Regions from separate parts of the Homo sapiens genome. Here region 2 is linked to region 1. The links come from fine-mapping of genetic effects on gene expression. A gene starts in region 1. The other region holds a variant in brackets. All regions are shown on one strand. Distances are between the middles of the regions.

Region 1 (5,375 bases):
GATAGTAAACAAGCACACATAGAAATAAAGCTGGGTGGCTGGGCATGGTGGCTCACGCCTGTAATCTCAGCACTTTGGGAGGCTGAGGCATGGAAAGACATTAAGTAGCAGCGGCAGATGAGGTCTGCAAGGTGGTATGGGTGAGGCTAAGGTTGTTTGGATGTTATTTTAAGAACAATGGGAAGACACTGGAGGTTGCCTTAAAGACATGTGTCTCTAGGCAAGCCCTTCAGATTAAAGGCTGCATTATTATTTTGCTTATACAAGATTTCATGCTATACCCAGATGCTTACATTTAGGGTGCTGAATTAGGGGATCACAATAAATAATACTAATACCAGAATTTATTCTGGAATATTCCCTGTAGCATCTGTACAGAATCTGGCACAAGGTGGAGGCCTAATAAACACTTATAAAGCTGAACTGCTACTGAAATTTACGCATCATGGTTAACACAATATAACATAGTCACTCTCGATTCAAAGTCTGTTTCACTTATGAAAGGGATCCTTTTCATGACAACGTAAGAGCTCTCTCCAGATTGAAAGGTCTGAAATGAAGGCAGAAGCTGAGCTTGGAGCTGTATTACTACTTTATGCAGGCAAACATGCATCTCTCACTTTCTACATTTCTAAGAGTCATTAGAAGACTTTCCTGGCCGAACATGGTGGCTCACGCCTGTAATCTCAGCACTTTGGGAGGGCGAGGCGGACGGATCACCTGAGGCTAGGAGTTTAAGACCACTGTGGCCAACATGGTGAAACCCTGTCTCTACTAAAAATAAAAAAATTTGGCCGGGCCCGGTGGCTCACGCCTGCAATCCCAGCACTTTGGGAGGCCGACATGGGCGGATCACGAGGTCAGGAGATCGAGACCATTCTGGCTAACAAAGTGAAACCCCGTCTCTACTAAAAATACAAAAAATTAGCTAGGCATGGTGGCGGGCGCCTGTAGTCCCAGCTACCTGGAGGCTGAGGCAGGAGAATGGCATGAACCTGGGAAGCGGAGCCTGCAGTGAGCCAAGATGGCACCACTGCACTCCAGCCCGGGTGACAGAGCGAGACTCCGTCTCAAAAAAAAAAAAAAAAATTTTGCCAGGCGTGGTGGTGCATGCCTGTAATCCCAGCTACTCAGAAGGCTGAGGCAGGAGAATCGCTTGAACTTGAGAGGCAGAGGTTGCAGTGAGCCGAGATTGTGCCATTGCACTCCAGCCTGGGAGACAAGAGCAAAACTCTGTCTCAAAAAAAACAAACGGCCGGGCACAGTGGCTCACACCTGTAATCCTAGCACTTTGGGAGGCCAAAGCGGGCAGATTGCCTAAGCTCAGGAGTTCGAGACCAGCCTGGGTAACATGGTGAAACCCTGTCTCTAAAATACAAAAAAATTAGCCGGACAAGGTGGTGCACACCTATAATCCCAGCTACTCAGGAGGCCAAGGCAGGAGAATTGCTTGAACCCAGGAGGCGGAGGTTGCAGTGAGCCAAGATCTCGCCACTGCACTCCAGCCTGGGTGACAGAGTGAGGCTCCGTCTCTTTAAAAAAAAAAAAAAAGAAAAGAAAAAAAAGACTATCCTAAGTCCCAGAGTGTTAACAGATGACTCTCTATATACCTTTATCTCTCTTCAAGAACTCCAGCAACGTCCGGATGGCAGCCACTGCTGAGGCCATGTCAGGATCTTCTTTCATCTGAGACTTAAAGTATTCAATTAACTCTGGAAAAAGGGAAAAAAGTGATTCACCTAATTCATTTAGCAGCCTATAAGGCAAGAGAGCTTGTTAATGACTGTTGACTTTAAGAAGCAAACAATTTAAAAAATACTTTCTTTTTAGGGTATTTGGTTTCAGGGATGCAATAAATGTTGATGGGAATAGAGAAAATACCACTTTGCTGTTTGCAAGAGCTCTTTTTTATTTTGAAAAAGCTACTGGTGGCCGGGCGCGGTGGCTCACGCCTGTAATCCCAGCACTTTGGGAGTCCGAGGCGGGCGGATCACGAGGTCAGGAGATCGAGACCATCCCGGCTAAAACGGTGAAACCCCGTCTCTACTAAAAATACAAAAAATTAGCCGGGCGTAGTGGCGGGCGCCTGTAGTCCCAGCTACTTGGGAGGCTGAGGCAGGAGAATGGCGTGAACCCGGGAGGCGGAGCTTGCAGTGAGCCGAGACTGCGCCACTGCACTCCAGCCTGGGTGACAGAGCGAGACTCCGTCTCAAAAAAAAAAAAAAAAAAGCTACTGGTGTGCAAGGCCTAAAAATTAAGCCCGAGTAAATGATGATGAAAAGTCATTCTCTCTTCAGCCTCTTTGGTCCTAAAATCTGAGAGGATCCCAGAGTCAACCATCTTGCCAATTTCTCCTGCACCCCTCCAGACAGTCTATGCTAATACATGTCTATTCACATACACATATATGTTACAAATATTATACATGGAGTTCCACCCACTCCCCTTTATTTCTTTACATGAAAAGTGTATTAGTTTGCCCTTGTTTTTCACTTAATAACCATACTAGATGAGCACATCAAATATGCCTTATTCATTCTAATTTTAATGACAGATCCAACAAGGCAGGAAGGAGACTGGCACTGGGAAGGAGCGTATGTGTGGGAGGGATGCCTGCAGATACTGCCAGGGCGCATCCCTGAAAACAAGAGCAGCGCGAGGGATTTAGTTGTGACTCTGGAAACACAACCAGCGGAGCAGCCTGAAATTCAAAAGAAATCTCTTCGGGAGCTCAGCCTGGATGTGAGAGGTTGGGGGGACCCCTGAACGGCGCTGCTGTAGCCTAGCAGCCCTGGCCTGTCTTGATTTACCCTTGTCGTCCATGGCGTCCTCCTGCTGCGGAGCCCCAGGGGACCCGAGCCGCCCGCGCTGTCTCGAACGGGTCCGCCGGCCGCGCCGCCTGCGAGCCAGTCTGACAGCGCGCTGCACACCTCCGCACCCCACTTCCGGCGCACTTCCGTACCCCTCTTCCGGCGCACTCCCCGCACTCCACTTCCGCAGATTAGGGGGCTGGCACGAGTCACAGCACCTCGTGCGTCACTTGGCGGCGCCGGACGTTGGGCTGCGCAGGATTTGAGACGCTCCCCTGACCACCACTTGCTCTGCGCTGAGGTGCTGGGACAGCCATGGTTTCAGACGGTGAGGACCCTGCAGGGCGGGACTTCGACTCCGGGGCTCGGCTGTCTCGGTCCGGCTACGACTGGCCAGATGGAATGTGTCTTTTGGGCTGGATAGAATCCGTTTGGTCTTTAGAGGAGTAGCCAAGGCATTCAGTCATTCATTCAGTAAATAGTTTTGGATCGCCTCCTGTGTACAGGCATTATTTTCTGGATTTTAGCAGAGATCGTGACAGACAGGGGCCTTAGTGGAGGTTACAGTCTACTGGGTGAAACAGATGACAATAAATAAAAATAATTTCGGCCGGGTCGCACCCCGGTGGATTAGGCCTGTAATCCCAGCACTTTGGGAGGCCGAGGAGGGAGAATCGCTTGAAGCCGGGAGTTCGAGACCTGCCTGGGCAACACAGCCAGACCCCATCTCTACAAAAAAAATGAAATATTAGCCGGGCGTGGTAGCGCGTGTCTGTGGTCCCAGCTACGCGGGAGGCTGAGGCGGGAGAATCACTTGAGCCCAGGAATTCGAGGCTTCAGTGAGCTATTATGGCAGTACTGCACCCAGCATGGCCGACAGGGCATGACCTCGTCAATAAAAAATTAAAAAATAAATTATTTTTCAAAGGATGAAAAGAGCTATGAAGATGATGTAACAGTACGGTCCTAGTTACAATAGTACATTGTGACTAGGATTGAGGAGGAGCTGTTTTAGATAGGGGCCTAGGAAAAGTGCAGGATATTGAAACCGACTTGAATGATTATGTGAAGTTCTGGGGGAAGTGCACTTTAAGTGCATGGGCCCTGTGGCAGATTGAGCCACCAAGTTACACTGAGAAGGGAGAAATGGAGAGCTTGCGGGTAGAGGATGGTGGGGAGACTCATTCATACATTAAACTACCACATACAGAGTCAGATGTCTTGAAGATTTAAAAGGAGGCTAGAGGGATGAGATCAGAGAACCAGCCAGTTTCAGGTCATGCAGGGCCTTATTGGCCGTGATAGAGAAGTTGGCCTTTATTTTTAGGTGCAATACAAAGACATTGTAGAGTTTTAAGCCAGAAAGTGTTATGATCTGGTTTGCAATTTTAAAAGATCACTGTGGCTGTTGTGTGGAAAATGGACTGTGGGGAGCAAGAATAGAGATAGGGGAGTCCTTTCAGGAACTGTAATAATTGTCCATCCTCTCTTAATTGATGTGAAACCATACCACAACCCTGTGAGGGAGGCAGGCCTGGCATTGCTCCTGTCTACAAATGAGGTAGCGAACTAAAGAAGGAAATTCACAGGGTCATTGCATGTGTATAGATGCACACCTTTCTTTACAGGCAACGCTTTTTCTGTCTGGCAGACACAGTTGTATTAAGTGCTTCTGTCCTAGGTGCTTTGTTGTGTGATTTACACATTTTTTTGTTTTGTTTTTCTATTAAAAAAGAAAAAAAGTGGCTGGGCACAGTGGCTCACGCCTGTAATCCCAGCATTTTGGAAGGCCAAGGTGGGTGGATCACTTGAGGTCGGGAGTTCGAGACCAGCCTGGCCAACATGGTGAAACCCCGTCTCTGCTCAAAATACAAAAAAATTAACCGGACAAGGTGGCGCACACCTATAATCCCAGCTACTCAGGAGGCTGAGGCAGGAAAATTGCTTGAACCCAGGAGGCAGAGGTTGCAGTGAGCCAAGATCGTGCCACTGCACTCCAGCTTGGGCGACAGAGCAAGTCTCCGTCGCAAAAAAAAAAAAAAAAAAAAGGTAGAGATAAGGTCTCACTGTTTTGCCCAGGCTGGTCTCAAACTCCTGGGCTGAAGCAATCTTCCTGCCTCGACCTCCCAAAGTGTTGGGATTACAGGCGTGAGCCACTACACCAGTTCTGATTTACACACATTATTTTATCCTAGGATTAGCAAATTCCATCATTTTTTAAGAAGTCCACAGTCTTAAGTGGGCAGGACTGGGACGAGAGATCAGAAGCACAACTAACTGTAAAATAAAATAGTAAGTGCTAAGTGTCATTAGAAGAGAGAGCTGTGGGTTGTCAGAGGTGGGCAGTGGGGCAGTGAAGAGCCACAGTCTTTATAGTCAAGCAGATCTGTCTTTAGAACAGGGCTTTGGCCTTGCCACTTGTTAGCAGGCCATATGTGACTTAGGACAAGTTACTTTCATTTGCAGAATACGAATACCATATATCATATTTCAGCTAATCTAAGATAATATTGATTATGAGATGTGCCCTTATTTAATATACCATTAAGAAAGAAAAAATGCTGC
Region 2 (5,375 bases), 76 kb after region 1:
ACGTGGAAAGCCCTCAATAAGTGGCTAGCTGCTGCTTTTATTATTATATTGTTTGAGAAAAACAGGTGATGAACAAAGGTACCTTTGATAGCACCTGTATACAATGCACTGGCTGGAGAGGAGTGAGACTGACAACAAGACTGGCAGATGTTGCTGGGCGACAGGCCCATGAGGGGTTATTAGGAGTTTCTCTTCTCTTTGGATCTGTCTGTGGAAATGGTCAAAGACCATGGACAAATACTGAGAAAAAACAGCCCAGGTAGAATGCGAAACTTCTTAGGAGAACCTCAGGTTATATTGTGATTGCATCCGTTACCTGCTGTTCTTGGTGGAATAGAACTGAATGGTGGCTATGCTGACCATGTGATCTTTCCCTCCTAGGTTCTCCTCAGTGAACTGGCAGTACCAGTGTGGGCTTACCTGTGAGCACAAGGCCGACCTTCTCCCTATCAGTGCATCCGTCCAGTTTATTAAAATTCCTGCACAGTTACCCCACCCCCTGACAAGGTACTCCAGTTGCTCACCTAGTTGACATTAGGAAGCAGAAAAATATATATTTGAAAATTGGAAGTTTATTCCTTTAATCAAGTTCTGATACTTCTCACTTGTAGTTTTTGTAACCCTCTAAAATGTTTTCTAGATTCCAGATCAATTATACAGAGTATGACTGCAACAGAAATGAGGTGTGTTGGCCGCAGCTTCTATATCCATGGACTCAGTATTATCAAGGTAGGGTGAAACAGATTTCTATGACCAATTATGTTATGTCAATTTAAAAAAATTTTTTAAATGATGTCTAAATGTTACAGAAAGCATAAAACATATAGAAACTTAAAAAAAAGTACGGATAATATTGCCACTTGGAAGTGATCACCATTACTGTTTTGGCTTAGTTTATTTCTACCTACACTGTTTTTTTTTTTAGAGAGTCTTGCTCTGACACCCTGGCTGGAGTGCAGTGGCACAATCTCAGCTCACTGCAACCATTGCCTCCTGGGTTCAGACAACTCTCGTGCCTCAGCCTTTGGAGTAGCTGGGATTACAGCACCAATATGCCTGGCTATTTTTGTATTTTTAGTAGAGACGGGGTTTCACTGTGCTGGCCAGGCTGGTCTCGAACTGGCCTCAAGTGATCCGCCCTCCTTGGCCTCCCAAAGTGTTAGGATTACAGGAGTGAGCCACCACACCCAGCCTATACCTACACTGTTATCAAAAGAGTTAAGAAATACTGCTGTTGAATTTTGTCCATTGTTTTTCAGGGGAGCTGCATTCTCAGTGTGTTGCTAAGGGCTTACTGTTGCTGTTGTTCCTCACATTGGCCTTGTTCCTCAGCAACCCCTGGACCAGAATATGCAAAGCCTATAGTTAGACAACCACCTGGCTTTTATTTTTTTGAGATGGAGTTTTGCTCTTGTTGCCCAGGCTGAAGTGATCTCGGCTCACCACAACCTCCTCCTCTTGGGTTCAAGCGATTCTCCTGCCTCAGCCTCCGGAGAACTGGGATTACAGGCATGCACCACCACGCCCGGCTAATTTTGTATTTTTAGTAGAGACAGGGTTCCACCGTATTGGCCAGGCTGCTCTCGAACTCCTGACCTCATGATCCGCCCATCTTGGCCTCCCAAAGTGCTGAGATTACAGGCATGAGCCACCGCACCCGGCCTTTTTTTTTTTTTTTTTTTTTTTGAGGCGGGGTCTCTGTCACCCAGGCTGGAGTGCAGTGCACAATCTCGGCTCACTGCAATCTCTGCCTCCCAAGCAATCCTCCCACCTCAGCCTCTGGTGTAGCTGGGACCACAGATGCTCCACCATGCCTGGCTGTATTTTTGGTAAAGACGGGGTTTCGCCTTGTTGCCCAGGGTGGTCTGTAACTCCTGAGCTCAGATGATCTGCCCACCTCGGCCTCCCAAAGTGCTGGGATCACAGACGTGAGCCACTGCGTCCGGTCCATCTGACTTCTCAAAGACTTTAGACCTTGACTTCAGTGATTTGTTGTAGTCTTGTATGCTTCTCTATAAAATTTTAATAAATGAAATGTCTTATTTTTGTAGAAAATTTTTATTAAGTGCCCTGTGACTTTAATTCATATATGTAGCTATCCAATGCAGAATGAATATTCTCATCGCTGGCCTG[A/G]ACTGAGTAAAATGCATGAGAAGAACTCAAAAATGTTAGAAATTTTAGCTTATCACAAATTAGTTAAAGTCATAGGAGTTTTATTTATACCAGAGAGAATCAGTCTTTTCTTTAGTTTTTAATACATTCGTGTTGATTGATGTTTCCCATATTCCGTAGAAAGGATTAAGAAATCCTTAAAAATGCATGTAATACAAAAACACAAAATCACTGATGGGGAAAGATATGGGGGCTGCGGGAGGAAAATAATAAGAGAAAAGTAAAACAAAACCAGGGGCACATGTAAGCCCTAAAATACATGCCAGAGGTTGCCTTTAGCAGAAGCAGGCCCCTAATTCATTATTTATTTATTTGTTTTTTGGAGACAGGTTCTCCCTCTGTTGCCCAGGCTGGAGTGCAGTGGCACGATTATAGCTCACTGTAAACTCAGACACCTGGGATCAAGCGATTCTCCCCCAAGTAGCTGGGACTACAGGTGGCACACAGCTACCACGCCTGGCTATTTTTTTTTTTTTTTTTTTTTTTTTTTTTTTTAGTAGATGGGGGTCTCGCTATGTTGCCCAGCCTGGTCTCAAACTCCTGGCTTTAGCGATCCTACCACCTAAGCCTCCCAAAGTGCTGGGATTACCAGCAGGAGCCACTATGCCCAACCAAGACCCCAGTTTACAAAAACCCAAGTATGATTAGCTATAGGAATTATGAAATCTATTCATTAATACAGGAATTATGAAATCTATTCATTAAAAATTAACTGGTTATCAATGAAGGACAGTTTTTCCTAGCTGAGTCTTGACAAATTTCTCCCATGGGCCGTCACATGGGAACAGTCAACCCCACTCAGTGGGGAGAATGGATTTTTTTTTTTTTTTTTTTTTTGAGACTCGGTCTTACTCTGTTACCCAGGCTGGAGAGCTGGAGAGCAGTGGCACAATTACGGCTCACTGCAGCCTCGACCTCCTGAGCTCAAGTGATCCTCCCACCTTAGCCTCCCAAGTAGCTGGGACCACAGGCTTGTACCTGGCTAGTTTTTGTATTTTTTTTTTTTGTAGAGAAGGGGGTCTCCCTATGTTACCCAGGCTGGTCTCGAACTCTTAGGCTCAAGTGATCTACCTGCCTTAGCCTCCCAAAGTGCTGGGATTATAGGTATGAGCTGCTGTGCCCAGCCCTGGAATAGATGTTTTTAGCCACGGTCCTACAGTGGCCACATGGCACATCACCTGTAAGTTTTCTTTGTGTGCCAGGTAACTTAGTTGTTTCAGATGGATTTTCTATGTTATTTAAGCCTAATTTTGAAAAATAATTATTTTCCCTTTTATACTTTTTGATCGAATTCCTAGTGCCTGCTGATACCCAGCACCACATAAAATGTGCTGTTTCATCTTCGCTGCAGAGTTCCTGCCCAGGGGCAATTTCAAATTTTCCTCCAGTCTTAAGTCCATTTTCTTTTTTCTTTTTTTTTTTGAGACGGAGTCTTGCTCTATTGCCCAGGCTGGAGAGCAGTGGCGTGATCTTTGCTCACTGCAAGCTCCGCCTCCCGAGTTCACGCCATTCTCCTGCCTCAGCCTCCTGAGTAGCTGGGACTACAGGCACCCACCACCATGCCCAGCTAATTTTTCGTATTTTTAGTAGAGACGGAGTTTCACTGTGTTAGCCAGGATGGTCTCGATCTCCTGACCTCGTGATCCACCCGCCTCGGCCTCCCAAAGTGCTGGGATTACAGGCATGAGCCACTGCGCCCGGCCTGAGTCCACTTTCAAATAGGGGGATGAGCTAGTCACTGCAGAGGTCCTAAGTTTCTGCATGATGGAAATACCGTGAATTTCAGCATCTGTACTGTGGTGGTGTTGGGCCTTCACCCGACCCCTCTAGGGCTGACTCAGGAATCTGGGTCAGTACTGGACTGACGGAGCTGGGGTCTGAGTCAATTATTGTCTGAACTTCAGCCTTTGAATTCACCTTCACAGTTCTTACTGTATCTTTTTGTTGTTGTTGTTTCTTTTGAAACAGAGTGTCACTCTGTTGCCCAGGCTAGAGTCCAGGGATGCCATTTCAGCTCACTGCAAGCTCCACCTCCCAGGTTCAAGCGATTCTCTTGCCTCAGCCTCCCGAGTAGCTGGGACTACAGGTGCCCACCACCACGCCTAGCTAATTTTTATATTTTTTTAGTAGAGACGGGGTTTTGCCATGTTGGCCAGGCTGGTCTCAAACTCCTGACCTCAAGTGATCCACCTGCCTCAGCCTCCCAAAGTGCAGGGATTACAGGAGTGAGCCAGGGCACCCAGCCTAGTGTAACTAGCTTTGGATTTCAGGTATTTATGGAAAATAAATTTAAAACTTCCAAATGACAGGTAATTTAGCTTGATTTTGTGGGCTTTGTGAGGACGCCTTTTGTACTTAAAAGAAGGAAAAAACTCAGTTTGGCAGAATGGGGTCTGGAGTGTCTATGGTTTTAACTTTTTTAAGTTTATACATTTATGTATGCATTCATGAACTATTTATTGAGTGGCTACTATGTGCTGGGGCTTGGAGATACCACAGTGGCAGAAACAATGTCCCCACCTTGGTGGAGCTTCCATTCTAGCAGGGAAGACTGGCACTAACACACAGACAAGATAATTTCAGATGGTGGCAGGTGCAGTGAAGGAAATAGAACAAGGATGTGACTCCAGGGACAGTCTCAAGGAAGGGGATATGTAAGCAGAGACTCGACTGGGACAGCGGTGAGGTTGCGGCCTGGGGCGGGGGGCCACTGCTTCCCGGTCAGTGTGGGGAACACACACTGGGTGCTGTGTGATTCCATCGACAGGACAAGCCTGGAGGTGGCAAATTTAGCGAGACAAAATTGTCCTGTGGTGGCCAGGCCGGGCGGGAAGGGGAGACTGCAACTGAGCAGGAGGAGTCTTGCGAGGTCGGTGGGAAATGTTTGAAAACTGGATTGGGATGCTGGCTGCACACTCCAACTTCACGAAGAAGCCTAGGATCCCTCCGGGCGGCGGATCACGCCTGTAATCCTAGCGCTTTGGGAGGCCAAGGCGGGAGGATTGCTTGAGTTCAGGAGTTCGAGACCAGCCTGGCCAACATGATGAAACCCCTTCTCTATAAACATTTTAAAAACAAATTAGCCGGGTGTGATGGCGCGCGTCTGTAATCCCAGCTCCTCCAGAGGCTGAGGTGGGAGGATCGCTTGAGCTCAGGAGGTCAAGGTTGCAGCGAGCCGAGCTCGTGCTACTGCACTCCTCCCT

What was found. PIP is the estimated chance that this variant, and not a neighbour inherited with it, causes the effect.
Region 2: its variant is fine-mapped to the expression of EIF2B1 in prefrontal cortex (GTEx, PIP above 0.99).

Annotation. Positions count from the first base shown.
Region 1 is chr12:123,630,735-123,636,109 of GRCh38, forward strand. EIF2B1 (eukaryotic translation initiation factor 2B subunit alpha) reads right to left here and starts at 2,952. Exons shown (of 9, transcript NM_001414.4): 1 at 2,811-2,952; 2 at 1,611-1,712. The coding sequence starts at 2,823. GTF2H3 (general transcription factor IIH subunit 3) reads left to right here and starts at 3,095. Exons shown (of 13, transcript NM_001516.5): 1 at 3,095-3,138. The coding sequence starts at 3,126. RefSeq lists an enhancer at 2,979-3,168.
Region 2 is chr12:123,706,345-123,711,719 of GRCh38, forward strand. It overlaps TCTN2 (tectonic family member 2), which reads left to right. Exons shown (of 18, transcript NM_024809.5): 16 at 382-507; 17 at 641-729; 18 at 1,260-2,055. The coding sequence ends at 1,369. Among named protein-coding and RNA genes, the nearest start is that of ATP6V0A2, 3.3 kb to the right of the region's middle. The variant A/G (reference allele first, on the strand shown) is at 2,134.